Linked DNA regions of Homo sapiens: region 1 is linked to region 2. Evidence: fine-mapped expression QTL. A gene starts in region 2. The other region holds a variant in brackets. All regions are shown on one strand. Distances are from middle to middle. Region 1 overlaps IGSF21 (immunoglobin superfamily member 21). Region 2 holds the start of IGSF21 (immunoglobin superfamily member 21).

What was found. PIP is the estimated chance that this variant, and not a neighbour inherited with it, causes the effect. A credible set is the group of variants that fine-mapping cannot tell apart.
Region 1: its variant is the best candidate, but not a certain one, in a credible set for the expression of IGSF21 in prefrontal cortex (GTEx, PIP 0.68).

The regions. Positions count from the first base shown.
Region 1 is chr1:18,138,103-18,142,488 of GRCh38, forward strand. The region is part of intron 1 of IGSF21 (immunoglobin superfamily member 21); the gene reads left to right. Among named protein-coding and RNA genes, the nearest start is that of IGSF21, 32 kb to the left of the region's middle. RefSeq lists an enhancer at 4,119-4,386. The variant G/A (reference allele first, on the strand shown) is at 2,109.
Region 2 is chr1:18,106,026-18,110,411 of GRCh38, forward strand. It overlaps IGSF21 (immunoglobin superfamily member 21), which reads left to right and starts at 1,773. Exons shown (of 10, transcript NM_032880.5): 1 at 1,773-2,173. The coding sequence starts at 2,104.

The DNA of each region.
Region 1 (4,386 bases), 32 kb after region 2:
AGGGTTGGGCTGAAGATAATGGGTTCGTAAGTGACAGGTGGGCTGAGCTGGGATTAACAGAGCCAGAGACAGTTTGCTCTGGAGCCCCAAGCATGGGCTACAGAACCAGTGAGCTTTAAGATCCTTATCTCATCGAGGAAATATAATAATCCCTCGCAGGACATGTGGCCTCACTTTCTTCATTTCCACAGCTTTGTCCAGCTGTTTATCTCAATCCATCCTTACGATGGCCTGAGAAGTAAGCAGGGACCAGTGGGGTGTTGCTTGATCACTTGCTTCTTTGGGGTCTAGCACGGGGGACCGTATTCCTACTACTGCTACTGTTATTGCTTGCTTTTGGGGTTCCCTTCAAAGCAGAGCCAGAGAGAAGGATTTGGATGCAGGGGTTTATTTTGGGAATGACCCCAGGAGGTAGCAGCAGGAGGGATGTGGGCTGGGAAAAGAAAAGCAACTGATGCGGTTTTCACTTTTGCTCTCTCAGTGAGGGAACCGCTGACAGGCAGTGTGGGACATACTCTGAATCACCTGGCAAGGGGCGAGGAAGCTGGGGTACTGATCCTCTAACCCCCACCTCTCAGTGACCTGCCCCACACATGGGCCAAGTGCTCTCACAGCAGACTTCTTTTAGGTAAAGAAGTGCAAGATGCCAGCTTGGCATCTGCTCCCTCGCCACCACCATTAACTGAGCACTTACTATGAGCCAGGATGCCCGCTAAGGCCCTTCCCTGAATTAGCTAAATGTCTTGTCAATGGACATTATTGTCCTCTTTTTACAGATGAGGAAACTGAGGCCCAGAGAGAGCCACAAAGAGAGTCTGGGAGAGTTGGGATTCAGACCTGTCATTTTGTCTTCAAGCACTTAGTAAGCACCTGCTGAGTGCCAGCCAGTGTGCTTGGTCGTGGCTTTGCCGTTAAAACCCACATCCTTACCCACTGAATTCAATGCTGCTGGTGCAGGAGCGCTCTTCCCTCTTGGGTGCAGAGTCCATATTTTCTGGATTCTCTAGGATGGTCCCAATGGCAACACTTTTTATTCTTTTCAATAAAGATAATTTGTGGTATATATAACCAAATGCACTCTAATGTTTAAATCTTGGTAACACTTTTTGCATGAATAAATTCACTCTTCCCTTCCCACTGGGAGTGCTGTGTCTAATGAGAAATTCTCATTTGGGCTGGGAAAATGCGGTCGCTGAACCAGAGGGATGGGAGCCGGGGCATCTGACTCAAAGCTCAGGGTTCCGGGAGCTGTCTACGTCACACGATGATGGGGCCAGTTGGGTTCCTGAGCACCTCCCCCTGCTGGAAGATCGTGCAGGCTCCCTGGGCGATCCATCTCACCCACCCTCTTCCCAGTGTCTTCGGCCTCCCAGAGCTTCTTGCTCCCATTCCAGAGCCCAGGGCCTTCCCCTCTGTCTTCATTTTTCACCACCCTCTGCAGTGCTGTCGTCAGGTCAGGAATGGACCACTGTCAGGCAGTGTGGCTCAGTGGTTATGGTCAAAGGCTCTGGGACAGGTCTCTGGGTTTGAAGGCCAGCCCCACAACGTGTTGGGTGTGTGACCTAGGCCTCATTATCTGGATGCCCTAGGCTTCAATTTCCTCATCTGTGAGATGGGGTTAATATTGTAGCAGATGCTGTCAGTGCCTGGCTGTACTCTCTGTATTTCTCTCCACCCGCCAAAGTCTGCTTACTGTGAATGAAACTCATTGCCTGAGGCAGCATCCCTGGCCAGTGCACAGGGCAGGCCAGAAGTGCAGAGAGCTAGGGCTCCTGGAAGCAGCTCTCAACCAAGGACAGACAGGGAGTTCGAGAATGAATATCCCAACTTCCTTTTTTTTAAAAAAAATAAAAAATTTTATTTAGACAGGGTCTCGCTCTGTCGCTCAGGCTGAAGTGCAGTGGTGCGATCACGGCTCACTGCAGCCTCAACCTCCCCAGCTCAAACAATCCTTGCCTCAGCCTCCTGAGTAGCTGAGCCTACAGGTGTGCACCACCGTGCCTGGCTGATTTTTAAATATTTTTTGTAGAGACAGAGGTCCCATTATGTTGCCCAAGCTGGTCTCAAACTTGTAGACTCAAGCGATTCTCTCCACTCGGCATCCCAGA[G/A]TGCTGGAATCACGCAGCTTCCTTGCTGTTGGTGTTGATACTTGGAGGTGTATCTTCTACCCTGTCTCGCCTAGTTCCCCAGCAGGGTGGAGTTCTAGTTGCCTGCAGGAAAGCTGGCTTAATGCACCCAGTATCCTGCCCTGCCTTCCTGCTCCCTCACTGATGTTTCCTGGGTCACTTCCCGAATAAGCTACCTGCATCTGAATTATTTTCTCACAGTCTGCATCTCGGGGAGCCCAAACCAAGCCTCAATGTGCCTAGAGTGGGGGCAGCTGTGGGGATCACATGGGTGAGGATCTGGAAAGCACTGGAGGCGGCCGCATATGCATGCTCCATGGAAGCGGGCACTCCCACATCGTGGCTCCAGTTCCCCAGCCAGACCATGCTTCACAGTCGCGTGTCTGCTCCTGCTGTGCCCTCTGCCTGGTTGCCTTCCCATTCCTCTTCACCTGGCTCATGCCAAGACATCCTTCTGGACTCAGCTCAGTGGTCACCTCTTCTTGGAAGTCTTCCCTGACTACGCCCTGTGCTTGGCTTGGCAGGGGGGATCCCTCTTCAGCATCCACATAGGCTCCTTCCACTGTCATGGCATTTACACCCAGGATTACCATCCTCTGCGGGCTGCCCCTTCTCCCCACTTATTCTTTGAGGCCTGAGACCACATTTCTTTGCTGCCCAGCTCTCTGGGGGAGGAGGTAGCCCAGGTGTGAATCTTGTACACCCCTTAGCCCTCTGCTCCCTGTGGCCTTTGACCTGTGTCTGCACACAGGAACCCAGCAAACGTGGCACAATGAGGGCTTAGCATCCATCTGAGGAGAGCACGACCAGAGTGAAGCACCCCAGTCTCCATGCCTTCACAACCTTTTCTCTTTCCTCACCACCTCGGGGGTCACCCAGCAGGACAGGATGCTGGGACAAGTGGAACTGAAGGCTGGGCATCCAGGCTGATGGGAATTGGCTTTGAGAAGGAAGGATCTTAAGCTCAAGGTCTCATCTAGTCGGGAGGAAGACAGGGAGGAGGAGAGAGAGAGTTTAAAGCTCTGAGACCTTGCTTTGTCTTGTTTCTATTTATTATAATGACTACTGTCATTATTATGTAATGAGGTGAATGGTGGGCCAAAGTTTTGCCCACCTGCCAATGATGAAAAAGAGATAGGTTGACTTTAAAGCAAGAGAAGCTGCAGTCAGACAAAAGAAGGAACTTCCCACTTTCTGGTTGAGCAGGGTTGGCTGTCATCAAGTTCTCAGCAGGCAGAGAACTTGCTGGAACACAGGGATGTAGGGCAGGGGGTTGGGGGAGAGGCTGACACACAGAGGACAGGGAGGATGCTGTGGATCACCAGTAGCCACTGGGGCAGGAAGAAGCATATGACTGAGAGTGAGGGACCTGGAGAGCTAATTCTCTGCTCTACTCTCAACTTGCTGGATGACTTTAGGCAAGTCGCTTTACCTCTCTGGGCCTCCATTTCCTTATTTGTAAAGACGGGGACAATAATACATTCCTGGACAACATCTCCAGCTGTTTCACAAGTTATTAGATGGACATACACTTTATACAATTTAAAGCACAGTTCATGGCTGGGCACAGTGGCTCATACCTGTAATCCCAGCACTTCGGCAGGCCAAGGCGAGCCGATTGCTTGAGGCCAAGACTTTGAGACCAGCCTGGGCACCATAGCAAGACCCCCATTTCTACAAAAAATACAAAAATCAGCCGGGCATGGTGGTGCATGCCTGTGGTCCCAGCTACTTGGGAAGCTGAGGTGGGAGGATTACTTGAGCCCCGGAGGCCTAAACTGCAGTGAGCCAAGATTGTGCCACTGCATTCCAGCCTGGGCAACAGAGTGATACTGTCGCAAAATAATTTTTATATGTATATGTATATATAAAATAAAGCACAGTTTGGATGAAAAATAAACAAAACCAAAACCAACAGGGTGAGGAGAGAAGGTGAGAAACAAGCACGTGCTTCTCTTTCTCTAGCAATCCGTATCAGGACAAGGGGACTCCATTTAATGAACAACTACTCTATGACTAGCACCTATAAAGGCCTTAATCCTCACAACAGCCTATGTAGGAGGCTCGTCTCCATTTTACAGATGAGAAGACTGAGGCCCAGAGTGGTCAATTAACTGGTCCAACCGGGATTAGAACTCAGGCCTCTCTGACTCAACGCCCTGGCTTGTTCCGCCTTTGCCACATTATTGGAGCTGTGATGGTCAGATGTTCTACCCTTACTTGATCACCTGATGGTTCTTCTCCCCCTGCCCAAAATGAA
Region 2 (4,386 bases):
GTTTGTTGACTTTTTCTTGGGTCAGAGTGGGGAGGGAGGGCCAGGGAGGAGGCAGTAAGGGACTGTGCCCTGCAGCCTGAGAAGAAGGTGAGGGGGAGAGGTGACCTCAAGCTGACCCTCAGCAGCCTGGAGAAGGGGAGACCTGGGTGGATGCGAGTGAGAGGGAGCAAAGAACAGCAGCCAAAGGGAGAAGAAAGGACCTAAGACTCCAGTGTTCATCAAGTGTTCAAGCCATATGCAGTCCAATCAACCTGGAACCAATTAGTCTGATTCACAAAAAAAAAAAAAAAAAAAAAAAAAAAAAATCCCACTTAGGGACAAACTGTAATCAAACACCTATTTATAAGGGTTTATTATGATCATTATTATTATTTTACTGAGAGGATCATTCTAAAGCCTGTCAGGTGAACGTATGCTTTCAGATCTTCATAAATGCAAATCGCTCCTTCTGGGGTGGGTGAGCAAGCTGAGCCGCAGAGCTGCCTTGGGAGGCGATGGGGTGAGGTTCCAGAGGGCAGGAGGAGGGAGCAGTTCACTTTCATGGACATCTCTGCACAAAGCTCACCCAGAGGCAGCCCAGCAACCACCCATTGCCCACCCCACTCCCTACACTCCTCTCAGAGGGCTGCTGGAGATGGAACTGGCTATAGACCCATTGCCCATGTAGGTAAACGATGCAACAGCCTGACTCAGCAACCTGCCAGAGCTAGGGAAGCTGGAGATTCTCCATAGAAGGCCTGGGTAAAGGGACCCACCTGAGTTCTGAGCAGGTTTTGCCCCTGGTCGTGCTGGTTTTTCTGGGCTTTGCCAATCTTCTGGGTCCCTACCAATGGTGAAATTCTATCTCCTGAACTTCCTCATCTAACCACATCCCCAGTCCACTCCAAGGGCTAGAGTACCCCTCCCCTTCATCCTCGCAGGAGGCCTCAAAGTCCACCGCCAGGGCTGAGGCTCAATGGTGTGTGTGTGTGTGTGTGTGTGTGTGTGTGTGTGCTCGCGTGTGTGTTGGTGGGAGAGTAATGGTAACATACAAGTCCCAAACCTGTTCTTCTCGGACCTGGGAAGAAAAGCTGTCAGGTCTGGCAAAAAGGTGGAAACTTGGTCTCTGCCAGGAGGAAACAATCAGTTCCTCACCCTTCCTGGCTGGATCCTAGCACATGGGAAAAAGACAGAACACACCCCATTTCCGTGGGTCCCTGGGGGAAGGAGCAGCCGTAATTGGGGAAGTTTCAGAACATGGAAACCCCTTAATCTTGCCCAATGAGGGCATTCATCGTTGGCAAGGTCAGAACTCCAGAGCCACACCCTGCCTGCCCTGCTCCCAGGATGGCATCTTTCCCTCTCGGGAGGGAGGCTGCCTCCTTTCATCAGGCTGAGTAGCGGGGAGGGCGATGGTAATCCCGGGGATAGGAGGGGCTAGGTAAAGGCGGATCCGATGGAGCATAGCTTCCAGGGCGGGGTGTTGGGTCACCTGGGTAAGGGTTAAGAAGCTGGAGGCAGCAAGCCAGTTTTGAGTGAGGGGGGACCTGAGTGAGGGGAGAGGGGAGGTTAGGAGGGGGTGAGCTCTCCTTCTCCCTGCAATAAATCGGCTTAGCGGACGAGAGCCGAACAGCCCAGAAAGGATTAAAGAAAAGTCTGTATAATACGCGGAGAGCGCGGCGAGGGGAGGGCAAGGAGGGCGGGGGGGCGGGGAGAGGGGGAGGGACGGAGGGAGGGCGAGAGGAGGGGGGTGCTCGCGCCGCCGGGAGAGGCGAGCGCGAGGCAGAGAGCGCGATTCGGCTCCAAACTCCGGCGCTGCAGCCGATCGGACTCTGGGCCGCGGTGGGCACCGCGCGCAGCTAGGGAGCCGAGAACCGCGGCGAGCCCCGAGGACGCCCAGAGCGCGAGGGTCGCTGCGCCTCGCAGAGCCGGAGCCGAGTCGAGCCGGGCGCCCGGGCTGCCTGGCCGCGGCGGCATGGGGGCGCCCCCGCGGCTCTCCGCGCTGCCCGCCACCGCCTCGGCCAGTGGCCGGAGGCAGGAGCGCGTCTGAGCCCATGGCGAGGGGACCCGCCGCCACCGCCTCCACCCCCGCCGCCCCGCCACCGCCGCCAGCTCCCGGGCACCATGCGAACCGCCCCGAGCCTCCGCCGCTGCGTCTGCCTGCTGCTCGCCGCGATCCTGGACCTGGCGCGCGGTGAGTGCGCGGGCGCCTGGCGGGAGCCGAGCGGTGAACGTGCGCGGGGACGGGGTGCCGGGGGAGGGCGCTGGCCGGGGTCGCTCCGAGAGGCTCGGGCTACGAGCACCGGTCCTGCCCGGGGTCTGTGGAGCTGGTTGGCTCGATGAGGGAGGGAGGACGCCTCTTGGAGAGCGCTCATGGATTTGTGCCAGGGTGTGTGTGTGTGTGTAAATTGTGTGTCTTTGTTGTGTGTCTGGGTGAGGGTGTCCGGGAAGGAGCTGTGTGGGCAGAAGGTGCGGGAGTGTATTTAGAGATGCAAGTGTGTGTGTGCGTGTGTGTGTGATGGTGTGGGGTCTGCGTGTGAGTGAGCGAGGGTCTGGATGGGTGTTAGAGTGTCTGTGTCAGTTACATGGAGAAGGTGTGTGTGTGAGAGTGTGAGCGAATGTTGGGGGGAGGGTGTGAACATGTGCCACCTTCCCTGTGAGGGTGTGAAGTGTGTGAGCTTGTGTCACTGTGGGTGTGAGGTGTTAGGGGGTGGGTATGTGAGGTTTGGCGTTTCACGTGTGTCCCGAGTGTGCAGGTCTCTAGGGGTGTACGACAGCGGATTACTATTTCTGTGTGCACAGGAGATGGGACTGTGACACTGGACAAGAGTCTGCTTATGTGGGATGGGTGGGGGTGCAGGTGCCTGGGAGTCGTGGGCTTCATGGGGCTGGGAGTGTGTGTATGCGTGCCATGGAGCGTGTGGTTATCGTGTGCAGGGAGGTATGGACGCTTCCGGGGCTGGGGAGTTGTGAGCAGCTCAGTGTGTGTGTGTGTGTGTGTGTGTGTGTGTCCCGCCGTGTGGACTTGCTCCCGGGTTAGGCTAAGACAGCTAGAAGGAGGTTGAAGCCGAGCGGGTTCTCCGGAGCCAGTGAGAGGTGGCTCCGCAGCCCCAGGGTCCGCGGCCGGCCTCCCACCCAGTGCCGCCGCGTAGTGGGTCTTAAATGGAGCTGAACCCTTTCGCGCAGTGAGCAGAGAGCCAACGTGAGGCTAAAAGCCAGGAGGGAGGGAGGCGGGACCAGCGAAGAGCCGCAGGCACCGAGACTACAGGCTCCGCGTCCGGGATCCTCCTCGGAGCCTGGTGCCAACCTCAGCCTGGCTGGAGTCAGAGCCTGGCTCCGCCTCGGAGGGGAGCGGGACGCGAGGTGCCAAAAAGTCGTCTTTATGATCAATAAGGTCTCGACCCCGAGCCCCACTGGATGATAGAGGTGGGCATCACCTCTGTCCTATGCCATAGCCTTGTCCCAGCAGGAGGTGCCTACCTAGGCTCTGAGAGTGCCTGCCAGGAAGGGGTGCCCCCTTAAAAATAACCCCAACTCCTTCTACCCCGAAGTCCTTGGGGAGTGCTGGGTCTGCTGATGGGAGAAGCTGCAGAATTTGAGCCCGGAAGGTGGTCCTGACAGCGAGGGGGGAGGGGTTGGTGTAACCCAGAAGGAATGCAAACCCTGTACTTTGTTCCCCTACCCTTGGAACAAGAGACTTTCCTAAGTGGATCAAAATGTCCCCCCTCAACTTTGGGAGGAGGGCTCTAGAGGGAAAGGTTACATGGGGGAGGTCCTCGTTCCAGCGCCGCCGAGAGGGCACTGGGGTTTGTTGAAAGGCACTGGAGCCCTCACCTGGACATTGCAGGGGGCGGGGGTTGGAGGCTGGGGACCTAAGGTAAGCACCCCTTTCCCTGGGAATGCGCAGAACAGAGAGACGCGGCAGGGTGAAGGAGAGGACTGATGAGAAGGGCTTGTTGGGAAACCCTGGCTCCGTCAGGACCCCACCCTGCGAGCTCTCCCTGGAACCCGGGAGCAGGGTTCTTCTGGCTGCCCGGCTGCAGAGAGCTGACCCGGCATCCTGACGCCTCAAATCCCTTTGCCCGCCTCTGCGGGCTGCGGGAGGCGGGGGTTGGCGTGCCTGAGGGTGAGCGCATCTGGGCCGGTGCAGCCAGCGCGGCCTCGGAGCTCCGCTGCTCAGGATGAAGGAAGAGCGCAGACGCGGATCGCGAATGGGAAACTTTCCGCGTCTGGGGCGCAGAGGGAGATCCGAGGCAGCCGGGAGCCCTCTCTTCTCCGCAGAGGAGAGCACACGAGGGTGGGGTCCCTCCTTCCTCCTTCCAAGTCTGTGCCCAGAATGGGGGGCGGGGTGCGAGAAGAGTCCGTGAGAGACGCAAGAGGCGGGCTGTGCCGGAGGAGGGCGCCCTT